3 linked regions of the Homo sapiens genome follow. The protein of the gene in region 3 purifies or fractionates together with the protein of the main gene of each other region. This does not show direct contact. Each region holds a gene or a part of one and is shown on either strand. Other genes may lie near its edges.

What was found.
Region 1: the proteins of MOG (region 3) and MMP15 purify together in Homo sapiens (affinity purification with mass spectrometry; one large-scale study listed by BioGRID and IntAct). This does not show direct contact.
Region 2: the proteins of MOG (region 3) and FAM241A purify together in Homo sapiens (affinity purification with mass spectrometry; one large-scale study listed by BioGRID and IntAct). This does not show direct contact.

The regions. Positions count from the first base shown.
Region 1 is NC_000016.10:58,024,312-58,028,553, forward strand, and holds the start of MMP15 (matrix metalloproteinase-15 preproprotein), read left to right. Parts: upstream 1-1,442; 5' UTR 1,443-2,039; coding exon 2,040-2,201; intron 2,202-4,242. UniProt on the Homo sapiens protein: Endopeptidase that degrades various components of the extracellular matrix. May activate progelatinase A.
Region 2 is NC_000004.12:112,151,852-112,155,573, reverse strand, and holds part of FAM241A (uncharacterized protein FAM241A), read right to left. Parts: intron 1-3,722.
Region 3 is NC_000006.12:29,669,958-29,673,066, reverse strand, and holds the end of MOG (myelin-oligodendrocyte glycoprotein isoform alpha1 precursor), read right to left. Parts: intron 2,894-3,109; coding exon of another isoform or gene 2,846-2,893; intron 2,787-2,845; coding exon 2,670-2,786; intron 2,367-2,669; coding exon 2,346-2,366; coding exon of another isoform or gene 2,188-2,345; exon of another isoform or gene 1,896-2,187; coding exon 1,882-1,895; 3' UTR 1,646-1,881; coding exon of another isoform or gene 1,617-1,645; 3' UTR 702-1,616; downstream 1-701. Other genes in the region: ZFP57 (zinc finger protein 57 homolog), read left to right, coding at 1-567.

The sequences.
Region 1 (4,242 bases), on a different chromosome or scaffold from region 3:
TGCTGGGATTACAGGCTTGAGCCACTTTACCTAGCCCCAAACTTTTTAAAATTGGCTAATCGGGACTAAATATCATGAAAGAGTGCGACGTGGTCGGTTAAACAAGGACAACCCCGTTGTCCGTGTCTGAAGACCACTGCACATTTCCCAAAAGCAAATTTCGAAGTGGAGAATTTAGAAACCAACTTCCCAGATGAAGGATCCCACAGAGAAGTGAGTCCGTGGAAATGATAGAATCGCCCGGTTCCTTTCTCTAAACTCCGACTTCCTTTCCCCAAGGACATCCCAGGAGGGTTCAAACGCGCCCTCTCTAAGGCACTCTGCCAGGTCTCCTGATTTCCAGTTTCCGGGAGGTGAGGCCGGCTAGGGTGCCCCGAGGGCCTGCTCTAGAGAAAACCGCCCTCAGGTGAGGACGGCTTCCATTTCCGGGTCTGAAGATAAGGAACAGCTTATCTTCGGTCTCCGCCCTCCTGCCTGCAACCCTCACCCACTGACCACGCCGGCCAGTCCGCCGCGCCAGGGCTGCCCTTGGCCTGGTCCCCGGGTCTCGGTGGACCTTCGACCCGGGCCTCCCAGCTCTGGCCTCCTGCATCCACCCCGCCCCGACCTCAAGCTGCTTCCGGAATAGAATGAAATCCAGCTCGTTAAGCTTCGCGGGGAGGTGTGTCCACCCGCCCCGCGCCGACTCCGGCCGCACTGTCGCACTTCACTCGCACCAGCCAGTGGCCAAAGTGCTTGGGCACCTATTGCGCCAGGCCAGGAGCCGGAAGTCTTACCTCGCCCTCACCCCAACTCTTTGCCCCACGTTCCCGATAAGAACATGGAGGCTCGGAGAGATTAATTTGCCCACGTGCAAGCGGCAGCTAAGGGGCGGACGCGGAACTTGAACCGTGTCCCTCCTAAACCTGCCCCTTGTCCGCCGCAACGCGCCCTCGACGCGCACAAAACCCTCACTTTGCTACTGAGGAAAGTTATTCAATGGCCAGAGACACCCTGCGGCTTTTGAAAAGAGGTTTCAGGCTGACAAATATCCATATATACATATATATTTATATTTAAGCCTAAAACGACTCTTTGATCCCTCCCCTAAGACCTCCTTCCCGTCCGCCTAGGCCTCGGTATCCCCCACCAGGTATGAGAAGGAGGAGTCTTCATTCTTCCCAGGCGGGGAGACCACGCCTTCCCTGCCTCCTCCCTCCGCGGGGGGTCGCGTTGGAGGTCACCCCCGCCCCCTAGGCGCTGGGTTGGGAGTGACGCGGGGTGGGCTGGAGAGGTTTCCTGCCGTCTGGGAAGCGTAAACGGACCGCCCACCTGTCGGGCCTCGGCCGCCCGCACCTGCTTGTGAGAAGCCTGCGGCTGGGGCACCGCCCCCGGTCCCCGCCCGGGTCCGCGCATTGGGAGCACACTGGCCCTTTAAGAGCGCGGCGGCCGCGGCGCGCGGGGAGGAGGGCTGGGAGCGCCCGGAGCCGCGCTGAACTCGCCGGGGACGTCGGGCGCCCGCTCCTTGGCTGGCTCGCTTGCTCTCTCGCTCGCTCTCTCGGGTCGGCTCCCTGCGCCTCCTCCCGGGACTGCTTGGGGACCCGGGCCCGGTCGGGCGCGGCGGCGAGCAGAATCCCCGTGCAGGAGGCGCGCGCTCCGGGCAGCGCCCGGCCCCGGGCATGGACAGAGGGAGCTGGGCGCGCAGGGAGCGCCGCGGGACCGGGCGGCCGGAGCGCTGAGCCAGACAAAGGCTCCGGAGTTGCGCTTGCTCTCGGGAGCCGGGCCCCAGGCGCTGGGCGCCGAGGCTGCGGAACCTCGCCGGGGGCAGCTCCGGTCGGCCCCCTTTCCCGCCGGCTGGTTCCGAGCTCCCGGACCTGCCCTGCCCGCTTCTCCTCGGGCTTGGGAATTTGCCGAGGCGACCTAGGCGGCTCCGGCGGGGACCGGGAGCCCGAGGTCCGCGGCGCGCCTGCCGGGCCAGGAGCCAGGGAGCGTCGCAAGTTTCCAAGGCGCGTGCGAGGATCCGGCGTGCAGTGTTCCGAGCTGGGCTGGGCGCCGAGAGCATGGGCAGCGACCCGAGCGCGCCCGGACGGCCGGGCTGGACGGGCAGCCTCCTCGGCGACCGGGAGGAGGCGGCGCGGCCGCGACTGCTGCCGCTGCTCCTGGTGCTTCTGGGCTGCCTGGGCCTTGGCGTAGCGGCCGAAGACGCGGAGGTCCATGCCGAGGTAAGACCCCCGCCCTGCCCTTTGGCTGCGGGCTGGGGGCTTGGAGGGAGAGGCGCCACGTCCGCAGGCTGGGACTTGGAGGTGGAGGGAGCGGAGACGCGCCCCCTGTTCTGGGCCGTGGCGGGGAAGCAAGCGGACTTGGCAGTCTGCCCCTCCCCAGCTCGCCCTCTGCAGCGCACCTCTTCGCAAACCCTTGAGGGCGCAGGGCCTCGCTCTCCTCCCCGCTACTCCTACAGCCCTGTTCTGGGCACTGAGCCCCCACCCCGACCCCCTTACATTCAGCCTGTGTCCCGGGAGCCGCTTCCGCCGCCCCCAGCCCTTGCCTCCCCTCCTTCCTTCCCTCCAGGGCAGCCGATTCCTCGAGAGCCCGGCTGGCGCGCAGTGGCGCTCTTTGCGAGTGGGGAGGGGGCTGCTCTCGGGGACAGCCACAGGCGGAGCAAGAGCTGGGCGGCTGGGCAACTGCGCTCCTGCCCAGGTGGCCTCCCGTCTGGGTGATACCGAGCCGCGCACGGCGGGCCAGGATGGAGGCGGGGGGATGGGTGCAAACGGCTGAGGCAGCGGACTCGGGTTGCGGGGGCGCTTTGGCGACTTTCTGCGCTTTTGCGAGGAAGCCTAGGCACGCCCGGGCGGGGTCCTAAGGACGGACCCTGCCTCCCACAGCGCTTCCTCCCAACAGCGCCCCTACGTCGAAGCCCTGGATTCGAGAGGGTGGACCCCGCGCCTCTCTTCGCTAGGAGCCCGCTTGGCGTCCCTCCCGGGGCCCCGCTCTGGATGGGTCCCGCGGGTGACCAGGCGCGACATCCCGGCGTAGAGCCGAGTCCAGCCAGCGCCCCAGCTCCATGGTGTCTCCCGAGCGAGGACACCGAAGGCGCCAGCTTTCTTGCCCCAGAGCAAGAGCAGGGTCCACTCTTCCCCGACTTCTAAGACCTGCGCCCTGCCCCAGATAGGCGGGGAGAGGACTTGGGCGGGGAGTAGGGAGAAAGAACCACCCCGGAGCCGCTTCTGAACGGTGCTCAGGCCTTGGTGCCCTTGGGCTGCCCGGGCTGCGGGCCTGAGCGCCGTTTCTATTTGCAGCTCAGCTGGTGCTCCCTCCCTGGCCCACGGCGGCTTTCCCACCTCTCCGGGCTGCCTGGGAGATTTTTCCGATGGAAGCTTGCCCTTCCCCGCCCTACTTTAATAAAAGCATAGAGGAAGGGCAGGGAATTCCTCCTGGGCTCGAGTTACACCTCCCAGCCATTTCCCCACCTGCTCTGCCCTCCCTCCCTGGCCTGGCCAGGGAGAGCTGAAGGAGGAGCCAGGCCCTGGTGGGAGGCAGGATAGGAGCCCCGCCCCGACCCAGTCTGGCCACCCTCCCCCACCCCATTCACACAGGCAGGAGGAGCTTTAGGGGGCTCCTGTTGGTGAGGATTACCCCTCAGCCTGTGACCCAAGTACTGGGCGGAGAGTGCCATTTGGGCCCACCTGCCACTCTGGGCTGGAGTGCCAAAGAATTTCAAGTCACAGTCCCACCATTGAGTTTCTAATCTACTTAGGGATGGCGTCAATACATAGGAAGCAGTGATGGAATTCAATGGCCGTGCATTGCTAATGGCATCCTAGCTGGCCAGGAGCTCAGGGGTGCAGGGACCTGTAGTTGGAGGGGCTTCACTCTCTCTCTCTTCTGCTTTTCCAGTTCCATCTCACCCCTACCCCAACTCCCCAGCTCAGGGAGTGCCCACAGCTCGATGCCGCCAGGGAAGAAGCCATGGTTGCGTTATCACAAACCGTGCTCCTGATCTGGAGGTTGTGACTGTCCTGGAGCCCTACTCCTGGGGAAACACTTGGGTTGGACCTGGGCAGTGACTGGAAGAGACCCCGGAAGGTTTAAGGAGCCTTGAATGTTGGCAGCCATGCAGATAGAGGGCTAGAGACAGGTGGAGTGTCCCAGCTCCTACAGTTGGCTTTGGGTACAGGCTGCTTCTAGGGTCCCATCAGGTCTGGCCACATGTGGGCCCAAAGAGTCAAATGGCCTCAGCAGCCAGCCCATCTGCCGGGGGCTGTG
Region 2 (3,722 bases), on a different chromosome or scaffold from region 3:
TATATAAGGCTTCATCTAATAATAGCATTATATTATATTATATAATTTATAACTTATCATTATAACTTGTTTGTCACTTATCAGTAAATGAAAAATTATAGCATTGTTTTATACTTACCTCCCACTAAACTACATAGACCCAATAAAAGAAAAAAGATTTTTTTGAGGGGATGGATAAAAACAATGAGAATATCAACTAGAACTTAGTCTTTGAAATGATTATAAACAGAAAAATACCAAAATTTGCATTCATTTTTCATTTTAACTACCGGGCTTCAATATTTTTAAAATTATAAGTCATAATTGCAGACACACAAATGAAACCACCAGGTAGTCAAAAAGATACACTCAATTTCAGTAATATCTAACAGACGTATTGGAACAGCTGCCTATTGTAGAGAAAGAAATGGTTATGCAATGGAAAAATAATTAAATAAGAGAAGGGCTTTTCATGAACTAATGATATATAACTGTGGGCCACGAACTCAAGAATATGCCTAACTCAAGCCTCTTTTTTTGTGGCGGGGGAGGGTGGTGGGCGCAGACGGAGTTTTGCTCTGTCGCCCAGGCTGGAGTGCAGTTTGCGATCTTGGCTCACTGCAACCTCTGCCTCCTGGGTTCAAGCGATTCTTCTACCTCAGCCTCCTGAGTAGCTGGGATTACAGGTATTCCCCACCATACCCGGCTGATTTTTGTATCTTTTTGGAGAGGCGGGGTTTCGCCATGTTGGCCAGGCTGGTCTCGAACTCCTGGCCTCAGGTGACCCGCCCACCTCAGCCTCCCAAAGTGCTGGGATTACAGGCATGACCCACCACACCCTGCTCAAGCCTCTTTCTGATTTCAAACTGCAGGTTAAGACATTTCTACATTTTATACTTTTTCAAGAATCTACTTTTTTAAAAAAAAATATGAAATCTCTGGTGACATTACTTAGTACCTTGCATATGCAGGACAATATGCTAGATGCTACTACAAGATGGGTAAACTTATCCATTAAAAGTAGCCAGGCTGGGCACGGTGGCTCATGCCTGTAATCCCAGCACTTCGGAAGGCCAAGGCAGGGAAATTGCTTGAGGCCAGAAGTTCATAACCAGCCTGGGCAACACGGCAAAACTCCATCTCTACTAAAAATACAAAAATTAGCCAGGCATGGTAGTATGCACCTGTAGTCCCAGGAACTCGGTAGCCTGAGGCACAAGAATTGCTTGAACCTGGGAAGTGGAGGTTGCAGTGAGCTGAGATCCTACCATTGCACTCCTGCTTGGGCAACAAAGGACTCTGTCTCAAAAATAAAAAAATAAGAAATAAATTTTAAAAAATAAAGTATCAAACTTAGGGGAAAAAAGTAGTCAAAATCAAATATCTCTCCTGAAAAATGACTTTCCTTCTCAATTCTCAATTTGTGGCAGTGAAAATTTCGCTTCTGCTGTTATTACCTCTAAAACTCATGGAATAAGAAATCCTCAATTCAGTCAGACTGATGGAATTTGCAATCATGCAACATCAAACTTAAATTCCCTACCTCTGTAGGCCATCTGCAGACATTCAAGTAAAATTTAATTAAGAGGATACAAAACAAAAATTAAATTATTTTGGATTAATTGGAAGAGGAAATAAAAGAAATTCTCAAACACAGATATTTAAAAAGTTACATGAAAATAAATACTGTAAAAACCACAATGGGAATTTAACTTTCTTAACATTATGTTTAGATATTAAGTATTAATGATAATTTTATCCTTTATTTTCCATAAAGTTAAAAACATTTGTACCATGCTTTCCTTTTGATTAGAACTCTGATAAGCTGCAGTTGTTGCCCTAAGAAAACAGCAAGAAATAAAGCCAATCACTTCCTCTTCCTATGCCAAGATAAGACTCAGCTGCCAATGAAGTTAAATGGCTGGGGGCGGTGCCGGGGGAAACACTGGGTATGGGGAAAAAGATCAGAAGATAGAAAGTATCTTCTGCATCAGGTTGGTTAGAAACTCGGTTTATCTGCTCAAAAGAAGCTACATTTCAAATGTCTTATTAATTCTCTCAAACACACATAAACACAATGAAATAAAACATAACTAGTAGGAACAAGGTTTTCGGAGATAGGTGGCTGTTACTGGAAGATAAGATTATGACTCCAGAAAAGACAGAAAATGAAGACAGTGTTGCTAAGTCTTAAAGAACACATGAATAGAGACACAGAATTTCTACATATTTCTGTTACAGCAAGACTGATGTCATGGTACTTTGAGTTTTTCCTTTTAATCTTGCCTTATCACTTCTTTTGAATAGGAAACTGAGAATAGTTTGTACAGAGGAGGTGGGTATTTTTCCTCTCAAGGATTAGTGAGCAACAAGGGGGAAAAGAAACCAACTAGAGATCTACATAAAAAACAACATAATTTAGGTTGACAGGTTTAATTTTTTCTTTAGAGATTGTCTATTCTAAACATTAGATACATTGTTTCACAATCTTAACACTTTGTTCAATAAATATTCTATAAATTTGAGAATTACATGTACTAAAAACACAGTTCTATGATGTGTTAGTTGAGGGAAATAAGGGGAGGAAAACCAGAGAAAAAGAAGAAAAATAGAAAAGGTGAGGGAGAAATAAGGAGCAAATATTTATTGAGTGCCTCCATGTGTTAGGCATTTTACATACAAAATGAGACTGAATCCTCATAAAAACTTTAAGAGGTGGGTAGCATCATACCCATTACAAATGAGGAAATTGAATCTCTGACGGATTAAGTAATCAGGATCACGGGGGCTAATAAAGAGTAAAACCGGGATTCAAAATTAGATCTGTCATACTTCAACCCCCTTTTCATTGTTTCATAATGCTCAGCTTCTGCACTGAAGTGGAAGAGGTAGGGGAAGATGTATGCAGAAGAAGAGAAAGTGGTTGAGATGCGTGGGGAGGGAAAAAACACATGAGAGAACGAGACTCAACAGAGACAGAAAGGAGATGGGTGGTAGGAAAGAAAGGCAGAAAAGGAATGTGTGAGAAAGCAAAATACAGCAAGTTGCATACGAGGAGCTGCTAGAAGAGACACAGAGAAAAGTTTGAAATTCTGTTTAAAATACAGGTTTCAAGCAAATAAACAATTTTAACCTATCTATTGGAATATCTATTATCAGAGTAATTACTTTTGACAACTCAAAGGACTGTAACCCTTACATATTTTGAATATTGTTTCTCAACTTTGGCACTATTGAAATTTTGTGCCAGATAATACTTCGCTGTAGGGGACTATGGCATTATACGATGTTTACCAGCATTCCTGGCCTTTTCCTATTAGATGTCAGTACCACCTCCTTAGTTTCAGCAATAAAAAAATGTCCAGACATTGTCAAATGCCCCCTATGGACAAAAGGCCCCCAGTTGAGAACCACTGATTTAGAAGTTCCAGTCTGGATGATTTAAAAAAATGAACAAAAGATGCCTATCAAATGCAAAATTATTCCCTGAGTTACTCTAGTGACTGGATGTCCTTAGGAACAAGATGAGATTAAGTTAGGGCAGAATTCAACTAAGCTCATAGCACTTATTACAATATTGCTTGCAAACTGCTTTTAAAATACGTGAAAGGAAGTGAGTATAAACTAATATTTAGTTTTGAACTACACCATCTAAAGTAGGGCAGAAAATTTGTCAGACTGTTTTTCCATCATGTAATGTGCTTTTTGTATTTGTGAAACAAACAAACAAACAAAAAACACTA
Region 3 (3,109 bases):
AAGAACCAAGCACCTGTGACCAGGACCCAGGCACCCATCACTGGAACCCTCTGTCAGGATGCCAGATCCAACTCTCATCCAGTGAAGCCCTCAAGACTCAATGTCTTCTGTTGCCCCCATTGTTCTTTGACTTTTAGCAAGAAATCCTATCTCTCCAGACACCAGAAGGCCCACCTCACAGAGCCGCCCAACTACTGCTTCCATTGCAGCAAGTCTTTCAGCTCATTTTCCAGGCTGGTCAGACACCAGCAGACCCACTGGAAGCAGAAGAGCTACCTTTGCCCTATCTGTGACCTCTCCTTTGGGGAGAAAGAGGGCCTTATGGATCACTGGAGGGGCTATAAAGGCAAGGACCTGTGCCAGAGCAGCCACCATAAATGCCGGGTGATCCTGGGCCAGTGGCTTGGCTTCTCTCATGATGTCCCCACTATGGCTGGGGAGGAATGGAAGCATGGAGGTGATCAATCTCCCCCCAGGATCCATACCCCCAGGAGAAGAGGCCTAAGAGAGAAGGCCTGCAAAGGAGACAAAACAAAGGAGGCAGTGAGCATCTTGAAACATAAATAAATGGCCTTTCTGACTGAGCTCTTTCTTTGTGTTTAGTTTTCCTGAGGACTGACCTCTGGGGTAATGAGGCTGGAGTAGAGGGAGACAGGTGCGTGGATAAGGAAGGAAATACATAAAAGACAAGGGGTTAGAAGTGTGCTTATGAAAACTTGTATTATTATTTTTTATTTATTTATTTATTTATTTATTTATTTATTTATTTATTTATTTTTGAGACAGAGTCTTACTCTGTCACTCCGGCTAGAGTGCAGTGGCACGATCTCAGCTCACTGCAACCTCTGCCTCCTGGGTTCAAGCGATTCTCCTGCCTCAGCCTCCGGAGTAGCTGGTATTATAGGTGCCCACCACTATGCTCAGTTAATTGTTTGTATTTTTAGTAGAGATGGGGTTTCACCATGTTGGCCAGGCTGGTCTTGAACTCCTGACCTCGTGATTCGCCCGCCTCGGCCTCCCAAAGTGCTGGGATTACAGGCGTGAGCCACCGCACCCGGCCAAAACTCGTATCTTTATTAATTAGCACCTAGCTTGTTTGTTTGTGTCTGACCATCAAGTAGTAGTTGTTGAATAAACAGTGGATACTCTGATAGATATGAAGATAGGAGAAAAGGATGAGAGGAAGGAAAGATTCTGAGACCTGTGGAAGATGTGTAAGTAGAAGGAAAACATTCTAAAGCAGGCATGTTGCCCAGCTTTCGTTTTTGCTTCCCCAGGTCCCTAGTAGGCTGCCAAGACAAGGAGGAGCTCTGGCTAGTATTCTGTAGGTTTCTCCCCATCTCCAGGTTTGGGTTGGGGCTACTCATATCCTCACTCTTCAGCTCACTCAGCTCTCTCTTCAATGTTTTGCACTCTTCCTCTTCCTTCCCTTCACATGCCTTTCAGTTTTGCGCAATCAGGGCTGGAGTCTTGGAAGAAACAACCACCATTTGCAAAGTTACCATACTGTAATTTTCAGTGAGGAGATTCCTGGCCTCCAGTTCATGGCAGAGACCATCCTGTGTTGCTCTCCAGTACAGGTGTCCTCTGATGGAGAGAGGGGCACCTGCCTGTCCTTAGCCAGAGAGGGCTTCCAGGTGGAAGACTGGAGAGAGAAATGGAAAGAAGGGTAATAAAAATGGGAAAATGAAGAGAAAAGGTAGATGACAGAAGAAGGGAAATCAATTCTACTTGGAATTCAGAGTGTTCCTGAAAGTGCAAATTGGAATGTCCCCATAGCAAAGATGCCAGTGAGTGTGCAACTTGATGGATGAGATGTCCCCAAGGACAAATCCCTGGGCAACCAGGCTCTCCTCCACCCCTGCCAAGATGTGACATCACTCAGAAGGGATTTCCTAGAAGAAGGAGAAAATAACTTGAAAAACGTATGTCAGTAGTTTGTATCATAAAACCATTGAACTAGGGAGAAGAAAAGCCCTTGGGGTCATCTTGTCTCCATTCCTGCCTCAATGGTTGATCTGAGAGGTGAGGCACTGGGCAGTTGCTGTGGAATGGGCAATGAGACCAGCTAGGGTTGGATTCCTGCTTAGGGGCAGTGAAGGAGGAATGGATCAGGTGGCAGATAGGAGTGCCTCCAGCTTCTCTGCCACCTGTAAATGTGTCTCTAACAGCTGGCTTCTTTGCCCTCTACCTCCCAGGAGGAGTCTTCCCTCCACCCAGGCTCTCCAGCTCCTCCTTTCCTCTGGGAATGTGATCCCTCAATAGCCCGCCTCTTCCTCTTGTTGCTTCTGTCTCCCTTTCCTGGCTTTTTATTCTCTGCTTATAACAGAGAGAAGAGAACTTACGTAGCTCTTCAAGGAATTGCCCTGAAAACAAAAAGAAACAAATATGTGATTAGTGGAAGATGAATAGCACCTTCCCCACATCCTCCCTATGGACATTTGGAGTGACCCACACTGCCCTTTCCACTGGGGGATCCCACAGATCCAGTAAGTGGTTCTCTTCACAGTTTCTCAGAAGAGCCTGGGGTTGGGCATGGGGACAGAGGAATAAGGAAATCCCAGCTCCCCTAATCTTGAGTCCTGGTTCTATTCTCTTTTGGCTTCCCATTCAGAGCTGACTTGGTCCCCCACTATTTGGTGGTCTTGCCTGCTGCCCAGCCACTGCACCTGCTAGTCTTCGATGTAGCCAGTTGTAGCAGATGATCAAGGCAACCAAGGGTCCAAGAACCGGCACAATTACAAACAGGGTTATCTTCCAGCAGGGCACCCTCAGAAAGTGGGGATCTGAATTGTTCACCAGAACAAACAGGGTTAACATGTGTTCCCCCTCATGCCCCACCCACCTGTCTTTTTTGGTTCCTTAACCTGGGGTCCTAGAACACCAAAGGACTCTGGGGACAAAATTCAGAAAGTCCATGAACTTGGATGAGAAAAGTACTGCCTCCTTATTTTCAATAACTGGATTTAACATTTTCTTTCATTAAAAATGTAACAACTGCCAGGTGTGGTGGCTCATGCCTGTAATCCCAACACTCTGGGAGTCCGAGACGGGTGGATCATGAGGCCAAGAGTTCAAGACCAGCCAGGCCAACATGGTGAAACCCCAT